3 linked regions of the Homo sapiens genome follow. The protein of the gene in region 1 purifies or fractionates together with the protein of each later gene. This does not show direct contact. Each region holds a gene or a part of one and is shown in the gene's direction. Other genes may lie near its edges.

Evidence for each region.
Region 2: the proteins of MFSD6 (region 1) and ERLIN1 purify together in Homo sapiens (affinity purification with mass spectrometry; one large-scale study listed by BioGRID and IntAct). This does not show direct contact.
Region 3: the proteins of MFSD6 (region 1) and ABCB1 purify together in Homo sapiens (affinity purification with mass spectrometry; one large-scale study listed by BioGRID and IntAct). This does not show direct contact.

Annotation. Positions count from the first base shown.
Region 1 is NC_000002.12:190,435,816-190,439,474, forward strand, and holds part of MFSD6 (major facilitator superfamily domain-containing protein 6), read left to right. Parts: intron 1-161; 5' UTR 162-214; coding exon 215-1,746; intron 1,747-3,659.
Region 2 is NC_000010.11:100,152,258-100,155,134, reverse strand, and holds part of ERLIN1 (erlin-1), read left to right. Parts: intron 1-195; coding exon 196-275; intron 276-2,782; coding exon 2,783-2,877. UniProt on the Homo sapiens protein: Component of the ERLIN1/ERLIN2 complex which mediates the endoplasmic reticulum-associated degradation (ERAD) of inositol 1,4,5-trisphosphate receptors (IP3Rs).
Region 3 is NC_000007.14:87,552,324-87,555,982, reverse strand, and holds part of ABCB1 (ATP-dependent translocase ABCB1), read left to right. Parts: intron 1-2,050; coding exon 2,051-2,222; intron 2,223-3,659. UniProt on the Homo sapiens protein: Translocates drugs and phospholipids across the membrane. Catalyzes the flop of phospholipids from the cytoplasmic to the exoplasmic leaflet of the apical membrane.

The DNA of each region.
Region 1 (3,659 bases):
TTCCTTACCGGTATTGTGTGGCTGCAAGTGATAAATGATGAGAATTCTCTCTTGCAATTATTATTTTAGTTTGTAACTGCTTAATTTCCTGCAAGATGAAGTTCTGTGTTTACATGTTATGATTTTCATTACTAAGCCATCTTTTAAATTTTACTTTACAGATCAACAGTACAAATTCTGAAGTTTGTAAACTTGCTGATGGTGGTGGTAAGCCATGGCAGATGATAAAGTTGCTATCTTAACGGATGATGAAGAGGAACAGAAGAGAAAGTATGTGCTTGCAGATCCCTTTAATGGTATTTCCAGGGAACCAGAACCACCTTCGAATGAAACACCTTCCTCCACAGAAACATCTGCTATTCCTGAGGAGGAAATAGACTGGATAGAGAAACATTGTGTTAAGATAAACAACGATCTTCTAATTTCCAAGGTCTTTTATTTTTTCTTTTACTCTGCCTATGGCTCTCTCTATCCCCTTTTGCCTGTGTATTACAAACAGCTGGGAATGTCTCCAAGCCAGAGTGGACTACTAGTAGGTATTCGTTACTTCATTGAATTCTGCAGTGCCCCCTTTTGGGGTGTAGTTGCAGACCGCTTTAAAAAAGGCAAAATTGTCCTCCTCTTTTCTCTTTTGTGTTGGGTTTTATTCAACCTGGGCATTGGATTTGTCAAACCTGCTACCTTGAGATGTGTACCAAAGATTCGCCCAACAACTCACCCCACCAATGCAAGTCACCAGTTAACTATCCTGCCAACAAATTCTTCCTTTACCTCTTTCCTCACCATATCACCAAAAATGCGTGAGAAAAGAAACCTTTTGGAAACAAGGCTCAATGTCTCAGACACCGTTACTTTGCCAACAGCTCCAAACATGAACAGTGAACCCACTCTGCAGCCCCAGACAGGTGAAATTACTAACCGTATGATGGACTTGACTTTGAACTCAAGCACAGCAACCCCTGTCTCCCCAGGAAGCGTAACCAAGGAGACAACCACTGTTATTGTTACCACCACCAAATCTTTACCTTCTGACCAAGTCATGCTTGTTTATGATCAACAAGAAGTTGAAGCTATATTCTTGGTGATCTTGGTAGTTGTCATAATAGGAGAATTTTTCAGTGCCTCTTCTGTCACAATCGTAGACACGGTCACACTCCAGTATCTGGGAAAACACAGAGATCGCTATGGGTTGCAGCGCATGTGGGGCTCCCTGGGCTGGGGCCTGGCGATGCTGTCTGTGGGCATCGGGATCGACTACACCCACATCGAAGTGCTCATCGATGGAAAGGGGTGTAAGCCCCCCGAGTACAGGAATTACCAGATCGTCTTCATCGTCTTCGGCGTTCTCATGACCATGGCCTTGATCGTTGCCACTCAGTTCCGGTTCCGCTACAACCATTTCAAAAACGATGATTCTAAAGGGAAAGAGGTGGAGATCCCGCAGGTGGAAAGGAACAACTCTACAGAGTCCTCTGAGGAGACACCAACCACCACAAGCCACTCGCAGGCCTTCAACTTTTGGGACTTAATCAAGCTGCTCTGCAGCGTGCAGTATGGCTCAGTGCTGTTTGTGGCTTGGTTCATGGGTTTTGGATATGGCTTCGTGTTCACCTTTCTCTACTGGCATTTGGAAGACCTCAATGGAACTACAACCCTCTTTGGGGTCTGTTCAGTCCTGAGTCATGTGTCTGAGCTGACAGCATATTTTTTTAGTCACAAGCTTATTGAATTGATCGGCCACATCAGGTAAGAACATGCTTACGATTGCTGCCCCTCAGCAATTGAACTTTATCTTTTTATGGTTTATAGCTCCTTCTACTACAATTTTAAGGTATTATAATTTGTGTTGAGGATAGGGTTGGAGTGGAAATGGGGATTTCTGTTTCTTTTCCTCCTTAAAATAGAAACAAAGGAAAGGAAGTCATGAACCTGGTTGGATTATCTCAAATAAACAAAGAATGGCTTCCTCTGCTCTCCCACCCCACAGAAAAGACCTATAGGCTACCTAGCTGTGTGCTAAGAGACTCTCACAGTACATGTTTTCAGGTATAGGAACACCAGCTTAGTGAACATATTATTCCATGGAGGGTCCACCTGTCCTAGGCATTTATGAACCAGAGCTTAAGTAGATAAAGTGGACTTTTTTAAGCCTTTATTCTCAGCCACTTGCTGACATAGATAGAGCCTGAATATATGGCATCTAAAGATGTCCATTATATCTAATAAGACTGTGATGTAACCCACCGTAATCCCTAATTCCATGATATTACATGGATGAGGTTCTTAAGTATTTTTTTTGGGTTATTACATGACTCCCTGCATTTCTGTCCACCATGAAGACATAGGATATTTGAAAATCTTTCTTCCACCTAAAATTTCCCATGTAATTCTTTTAGTTATAAAAAAAAAAATCTATAGGCTGGGCACAGTGGCTCACACCTGCTAATCCCAGCACTTTGAGAGGCCGAGGCAGGTGGATCACTTGAGGTCAGGAGTTCGAGACCAGCCTGGCCAACATGGTGAAACCCCATCTCTACTAAAAATACAAAAGTTAGCCGGGCATGGTGGCACGCACCCGTAGTCCCAGCTACTCGGGAGGCTGACGCACAAGAATCACTTGAACCCAGGAGGCAGAGGTTGCAGTGAGTCAAGATCACACCACTGCACACCAGCCTGGGCAACAGAGTGAGACTCCATCTAAAAAAAGAGAACACCCTGTAAGTGCCTAGTGTTTCTTGTTGTGTACTATTTCTTCTCACCATTAATGTGCACCTTGCTCTTTAGAGATCTTTCTGCTCTGTTGGCTCTAAATGTGGAGCCAACTCCACTTAAGCATTCTTGCCTTACAGAAAAGTACGACATGTCTGTTCCTAAAATGTGAAGTTGCTGTAACTAAAAGCAACCGTATGTGTTTGTGTGTATTTAAATCTGCTATTTCTATAAGAAATTAAAGAGGAGAAATAGACAATGACAAGATTTGACAATCCTTTATTTCCTTTCTATTAACTGAAGAAAATATTTTCTAATTTAAAGTTTCAACCTAGTATCAACCATTTCTTTAAGCAATTGTGAGTATTTTTTCTTGTTGGTTTGGTTTTGCTTCGGGAGGTGGTGTTCTGTTCCTTCCCTTTCTCAGATCTTCGATCCCTTTGTTGTCACCACCAAAGTCAGGGACTGTGTGGATATTTCCTGGACCCACAGAACCCCTGAGGCACATTTTGTAAGACCATTCTGAAAGAGAGCCCACATAATATTAAGGACTCGGAATGCCCTTTAATTTTGTCCACACCATGTTTAGATTATCTGAGCTGTTTAAATTGACCGAGATGAATCAGATGCCTCCCTTCAGCTTGGGCAGATGAGCAAATCTCACTGCAGTTAATAATGTCTTTAAAATCACTGTTATTCATTCCCAGAAAGGTACCCAGTTAGGTCTTACCAATGCGTGGAGTTCTTAGACATCATTATTTAATAAGTCAATAGCATGAGTTGAACACTGACTCAGTACAGAGTATGTGTTTAGGTTCTATTTTCTTTTTTTTCACGTTTTATTTGTTTATTTTTTTATTATACTTTAAGTTTTAGGGTACACGTGCACAACGTGCAGATTTGTTGCATGTGTATAGATAGGTTCTATTTTCAAAGGAATTGTTAGGTTA
Region 2 (2,877 bases), on another chromosome or scaffold:
GCTGAGAGTTATTTGACAGTGAAAAGAGTATTCCTCGTAGAGAAGTTGCTGTTTGGGGACTGGGACTTGAAAACTGCTAATAGGTTTTTAAAACTTTCAATGTGAAATAAGCAGTCACAATATTAAGCAGTGGGGAAAGGGACTCTTAACTAGCTGAGGGAATGGATTGACACCTTTCCTTTGTTTATTTGCTAGATGCTGCATTCCTGGCCCGAGAGAAAGCGAAAGCAGATGCTGAATATTATGCTGCACACAAATATGCCACCTCAAACAAGGTGACTGGCTCCCTGGCCACTTTCCTAATGATGCATTTCGGGGTTTTGCTTTCTCTTTTCAGGAGCTCTGATATGATAGAAGTGATTTTATCCATTGTCAAGAAAGTGTAGTGACCAAGACATCCTCCAGAATTAGTCAGTTAGCAAGAAATATTTCACATTGATTGGGTAGGGACACAGGCCAAATGCCGTAATTCCATTCATTTGTACTGCTATATAAGGCTGAATAATTAATTAAGTTGAAGGTCTTCTGAAATAAGAGTGACAGAAGAGTAAAGTCTATTTAGAATTGCTTTCCAAATAAGGTAGTTTTTTTGGTAGATACTTAGCTTGATTAGAGCAGTATTTCTCATCAAAGGCATTCCTGGCATTTGGGGTTGAGATACTTTTTCATTGTTGAAGACCATCTCATGCATTGTAGGATATTTTGTATCCCTGGCCCTTGTCTACTGAATGTCAGTAGTGGTCACCAGTTGTTTTAACTGCCACACACACATGCATGTATTTCCATATGCCCCTTGTTGAGTACTCCTTGTTTATTGGATTTAAAAAACTATTCCAGTCATGAGGAATTTCATGTGGGATAACTTGAGAAGGCAGGTTGGGTGATATATAGGTGATAATTTGGTGTAAGGACTGGGGTAAGCTGGCTAGACGGTACAGGGCTAGTGAGCAGGGGCTATTTAAGAGGCAGCTAGAACTCCGATAGTATTCTGAGAAGGGAAGGGTATGTCCAAGATTTATAAGGTTATCGTGGAGCAGATTGGAACAGATAAAGGGTTGAGAAAGAGATTACTAAAGTGGATGATGCAGTTTGAAGGATTAGAGTCAAGTTTTAAGATATAGACAGGGCTTTTAATTTAGAAAGGAACAACATAATCCGTATTTAGAAGAAATGATAAGATGATAGAATGAGAGTTGTCAGTACTTTGAAAACCAATATAAATTTTAAAATGAACATAACATTGAAAGACACAGTTCTATAGACACAGAATGGAATTTGGCCAAAAGAAAGGCATGACAGGAAACTCCAGTTGAGGAAACTAGGAGTCCAAATCTAATGGGAGAAGCTCGTCAGGCACAAGTTTCAAGACCTTGCCATTGAGGTCTACCTTATTCAGAAAGGGGCAGTAGTTTTATGCCATTTTGAAAAATGTGACTCAGATACTAACCTATATTAAAAAGGCTTGAGGAAGAAATGTGGTTGTGCACTATGACCAGATTTGATTGGAGTGTTTCGACAGAGGATATGAATCACCTGGAGAAGATAGAGATCCAAAGAGTGAAAGATGTCAAAGTGTAGAAAATAAATGCTGTAGGACTGTGAAGGACAAGATGGACTTTTGCCTGGGGGACAGGCCAGGACTCAAGATAAGGAGAGGATCACAGAGCAGGGTCTGAGGGGCTTTGAAAGGCATATGTTACAGGGAACAGTGGAAATGGGTTTTAATCAAATCCAGATAGATTCTGGTTAGATACATCTTGGCATCCTGATTTAGACAAAACAAAACAGTGTGACAGAGGGAGATCTGGTGGTCGACGAGTTTTAATCAAACCCAGATAGGTTCTGGTTAGATACATCTTGGCATCCTGATTTAAACAAAACACTGTCACATAGATCTGGTGGTCGACAAACATCTGTCTGTCACAAGCAGCTTAAACATCCAGCTTCTGGGGAAAGGCAGAAGGCCAGATCAGGTGACAACTTGAGATTTTATTCTAGTTCTAGAATTTGTTCAAGAAAAGCAGAATCACAGCTAATGATAAGATAATGAGCACCAGCCCTTCCTTTGAAGTTCTGCTCTCATCCACTGACCTGTGTATCTCTCTCAAGAGAATCAACAGAGAACCAGGCATGATGGCTCATTCCTGTAGCCTCCCTGGAGGCTAAGATGAGAGTATCTCTTGAGCCCAGAAGTTTGAGGCTGCAGCAGCGAGCTATAATTGAACCACTGTATTCCAGCCTGGGCAACAGAGTGAGATCTCATCTCCAGAAAAAAAAAAGGCTGGGTGCAGTGGCTCACATCTTTGATTCCGACACTTTGGGAGGCCAAGGTAGGAGGATTGCTTGAGGCCAGGAGTTTGAGACCAGCCTGGCAACATAGACCCCATCTCTACAAAAATAAAAATAATTTTTTTAGAAAAGAGAATCAACAGAAACTCCAGACCAATTCCAGGTTGAATTCAACTAGATGAAATGAAAGTCACTTTAGAAATATTAGTTATTATCATTAGTTATCACAAATTGTTTTCCAACTCCCCCATCCTTTTATTAAAAAGTGAACAGCTTCTCTTGCATTAAGTCAGGAGCTTAATGAAGGAATTTTAAGTCAGGAACGCAGCTGTTAATGTGATAGCCACTCTCCAAAGTGAGAGAGGGTCATTGGCAGTTATTCAGACTTGACTCATGATACTCAGGAGAGCAATAGGTGAAATGTATATAGGGAGAGAGAAGACTGTTGCACCAGAGTATTCTGATGCCTTTGCTCTTGTTTGCTCCCACACAGCACAAGTTGACCCCGGAATATCTGGAGCTCAAAAAGTACCAGGCCATTGCTTCTAACAGTAAGATCTATTTTGGCAGCAACATCCCTAACATGTT
Region 3 (3,659 bases), on another chromosome or scaffold:
CTGATGTCTAAATGATTTTCTTCCTTGTGCTTCTGTGCAAATGTTTCCTCTGGCTGCATAGGACAACATCAGACTGGTTTCTACGTTAGTCTTGGTAAGCGAGAACTGAAATAAAGGAGATAACAGAGTATAGTACATATGTATTAAATGTCCTTAAATATATTCTTATGTAAGTTATGCCCAGTGGTAGCTTTTACCTCAGATCAACTCATAAAGTGAGAGATATGTATGTGTCTGTGTGTTGTGTGTGTGTGCATATGTGTATATAAATAATTGAAACGTTTCTCAAAAATAATTTTTCTGTTCAGATGATAACTGGCAAGTTGAGGATTTACATTTTGGGGGGTAGAAACTAATGATGTGTTGCTATGTTGTCACTATGAAGTTCTGTTTAAATTTCATCTTTAGTGAACACGGTAGTGATGTAAATTTCACTTGGCATGCTTTTGTAACTCTGTAATGTACCTAGTTAAAGTAGTCATGAAAGCAAGAAACAATGCATGTTCATATCTGGACAGTGCTTGAGCTCTGCTGTACATGCTAATGGAACAAGTTCTCCAAAGGAAATTAATATAATGCTATATAATATTTATATAGTTGTGAATTTATGGATCAAAGACCTTAAAGTATGACTTTTATATGGAAGTAAGTTCATGAATTTCAACAATTATTAGCTCCTCCTCTATCCAAGGCAATGCTCTAGGTTCTGCAGGGAGTTGCGATTAAGAAAATACAGACAGATTTAAGGCAATCTGTCCTGTTTCTCTAATCCTTTTACCTTGGTTCTACATTTGCAAAATTCCTTATTTTTCTTTAACTCTGGGCTCCATTAGCTTATCTCCATAGCTATCCTCTTAAACAGAGTAGTCTTCTCTGTTCCTTTCAAATGAAGGTCGAGTTATAGACATCATCTCCTTTAACTTTACCGTCAAAAATTGACCACCCTCTGAGGGTTTAAAAAATATTTGAATTATCAGTTGGGAATAACCTGTAAGTCATTAGAACTGCAGAAATAAAATCTGTCAGTGACTCCAACATTGTTTTTCGATTTTTTTTCATTTGCTCATTTTTGCCCCTTTTGTACAATTTCCTATATTTGCTCTAAGAAGTATTAATGGGTCCTCACCAGGTTTGGTTAATGTAGGGTAGGCCTTTGTGCTATGAATGGGTTCAGGGCTATAGATATGCTAATAATTTAATTTTTCTCAGCCCTTGAGTTAGTCAGAAGCCGTGGATGGCCCAAGCCACCAGGTCAGATCCTGTTAGTTCAGCAGCTGGCAGCTATGGCATGACAAGTGTTGGGAGCATTAATAGAGGGAAGGACACATAGTCAATATGTAGAAAGGAGAAGGAAGAGAGGGAATGCTGATGAATAATGATGTGCTTTTATAAACCTGTAAGCCAAATAATTTTTGTAGGTCAGTGATTTTTAAAATAAATGTCTACGGAAGTAAGATAAATTGTACAGCTTATTTAAATGTAAAAAGTATTACATGGCAATTCAGAACTCTCAAAATGCTCTCACACATGTAACCTCTCAGTTGGTCATTCCGACAGTCCTAGAGGAAGGCAGGACAGAGAGCAAACTGTCTCCAAACTTCCTTAATGTTCAGAGATTTAAATGACTGTCCCTTTTTTTTTTTTTTAGTACTTTCTAACATTATCTCTCCATTTTATTAATTAAAGAGGCATGCAGATTTTGAAGGAAAGACACAGGTTTTTTCCATGGCTTTTACTTTGTCTTGTGTATGAAACAATGTAAGTTTTAGAAGTTTGCTAAATATTGCTTCACTTATTTGCTATTGCTAAAGCCAGAGAAGGAAATTTTAGAAGACTCCCCCACAAATAAGTTAATCTCTATAAATGTCAGTTTCTTCTTCTGCAAAAAGGGAGTAAAACAGTACTACTATATAGGGTCAATGTATGAGCAGCAGGACAAAATGCATGTATATCACAGGACTGAACACATCCTAGCCACTCTGTAACTATCATGCTATATCGACATGTTTTCATAAAATGTATATGTGATCATTTTTGTTCTTTTTCTCAGGTACAACAAAAATTTAGAAGAAGCTAAAAGAATTGGGATAAAGAAAGCTATTACAGCCAATATTTCTATAGGTGCTGCTTTCCTGCTGATCTATGCATCTTATGCTCTGGCCTTCTGGTATGGGACCACCTTGGTCCTCTCAGGGGAATATTCTATTGGACAAGTACTCACTGTAAGTGGTTTACATTGAGAAATGAACCATTATTATAAAATGCCAATGAAATCCAGTAATGTTGGCTTGACTTTAGAAGAATATATTTTGAACAACTGTTGAATACTACAGACATATGCACTACTAGGTTAAAAAGTGGAAGGCCAGGCACGGTGGCTCACACCTGTAATCCCAGCACTTTGGGAGGCCGAGGCAGGCAGATCACGAGGTCAGGAGATCGAGACCATCCTGGCTAACATGGTGAAACCCCGTCTCTACAAAAAATACAAAAAATTAGCCGGGCGTGGTGGCGGGCGCCTGTAGTCCCAGCTACTCAGGAGGCTGAGGCAAGAGAATGGCGTTAACCCGGGAGGCGGAGCTTGCAGTGACCTGAGATTGCGCCACTGCACCGCAGCCTGGGTGACACAGCAAGACTGTCTCAAAAAAAAAAAAAAAAAAAAAAAGTGGAAAAAAATTAGATGCATCCGACAACCAGTTTTTTCTTTTATTTGCTTGTTTGTTTTTGCAGATATCTTGCACAATTTATCCTGTAGCCTAAATAATATTAACGTTAGCAATCTCAATAGCATGAACTTTTATTTGTTGAGATTATTTGTGCCAAACTTGTTGCTAAACACTTCACTTTTATTTTCTGATTTACTATTCACAAAAATGGCAAAATACACATTTTGACTTCTTTTCAAATTATTTCGAATGGCAGCTAATCCACCTCACAAATTATGGAAGTATAAATTGTTCCTCTTCCTAAAAGATTGTTTGGAAGTTTTCTGCATTATAGACCTTTGTGCAAGCACAGAAGTCTTGCCATTTAATGTTATCCTCTTTTATTTTAAAGACAATGAAATAATTTGCAAACCAAACTCAATTCATATCTGGATCTAATAAAATACACTGTTAGAAGAGTCACTTAGTTCCTTTTTCGTAGGCCAAGCAGAAATAGATTGAGGCAATGAGAGATGATATTTTGTAGAATCCCTTAAAACAATTCCCTTTTTCAGGAGCCAGATTTGTAATATGGATTCAATAATCACTTCTTTTTCTTTTTTTTTCAAATTTGCCTTATCCAACATTGCTCAGTGGGGAATGGCTTTTCCCATGAAGTTTTTTTTTTTTAGTATAGTGATGCTGTGGGTGATCCTTGGTTGTCATAACAGATGTTTTCTGTTTAACTGTGATTGAGATAAGCAGTTTAAATCCAGTGTTCACTGGGCATGAATATACTTCACACACTGGAGGCATCCAAAATAGGGAGTGTGGGGTTTGATATCGGACCAACTTGATTCAAATGGCAGCTTTGTCACTTATTAGCTGTATGATTTAGGGCAGCCAGCTAAACTTTTCAAGCCTCTGCTACCTCTTCTGCCAAATGATATGACAGGAATGAACCCTAACTTTCAGCGTGTTTTGAGGACTAACTGAGATAATGAATATAGAATC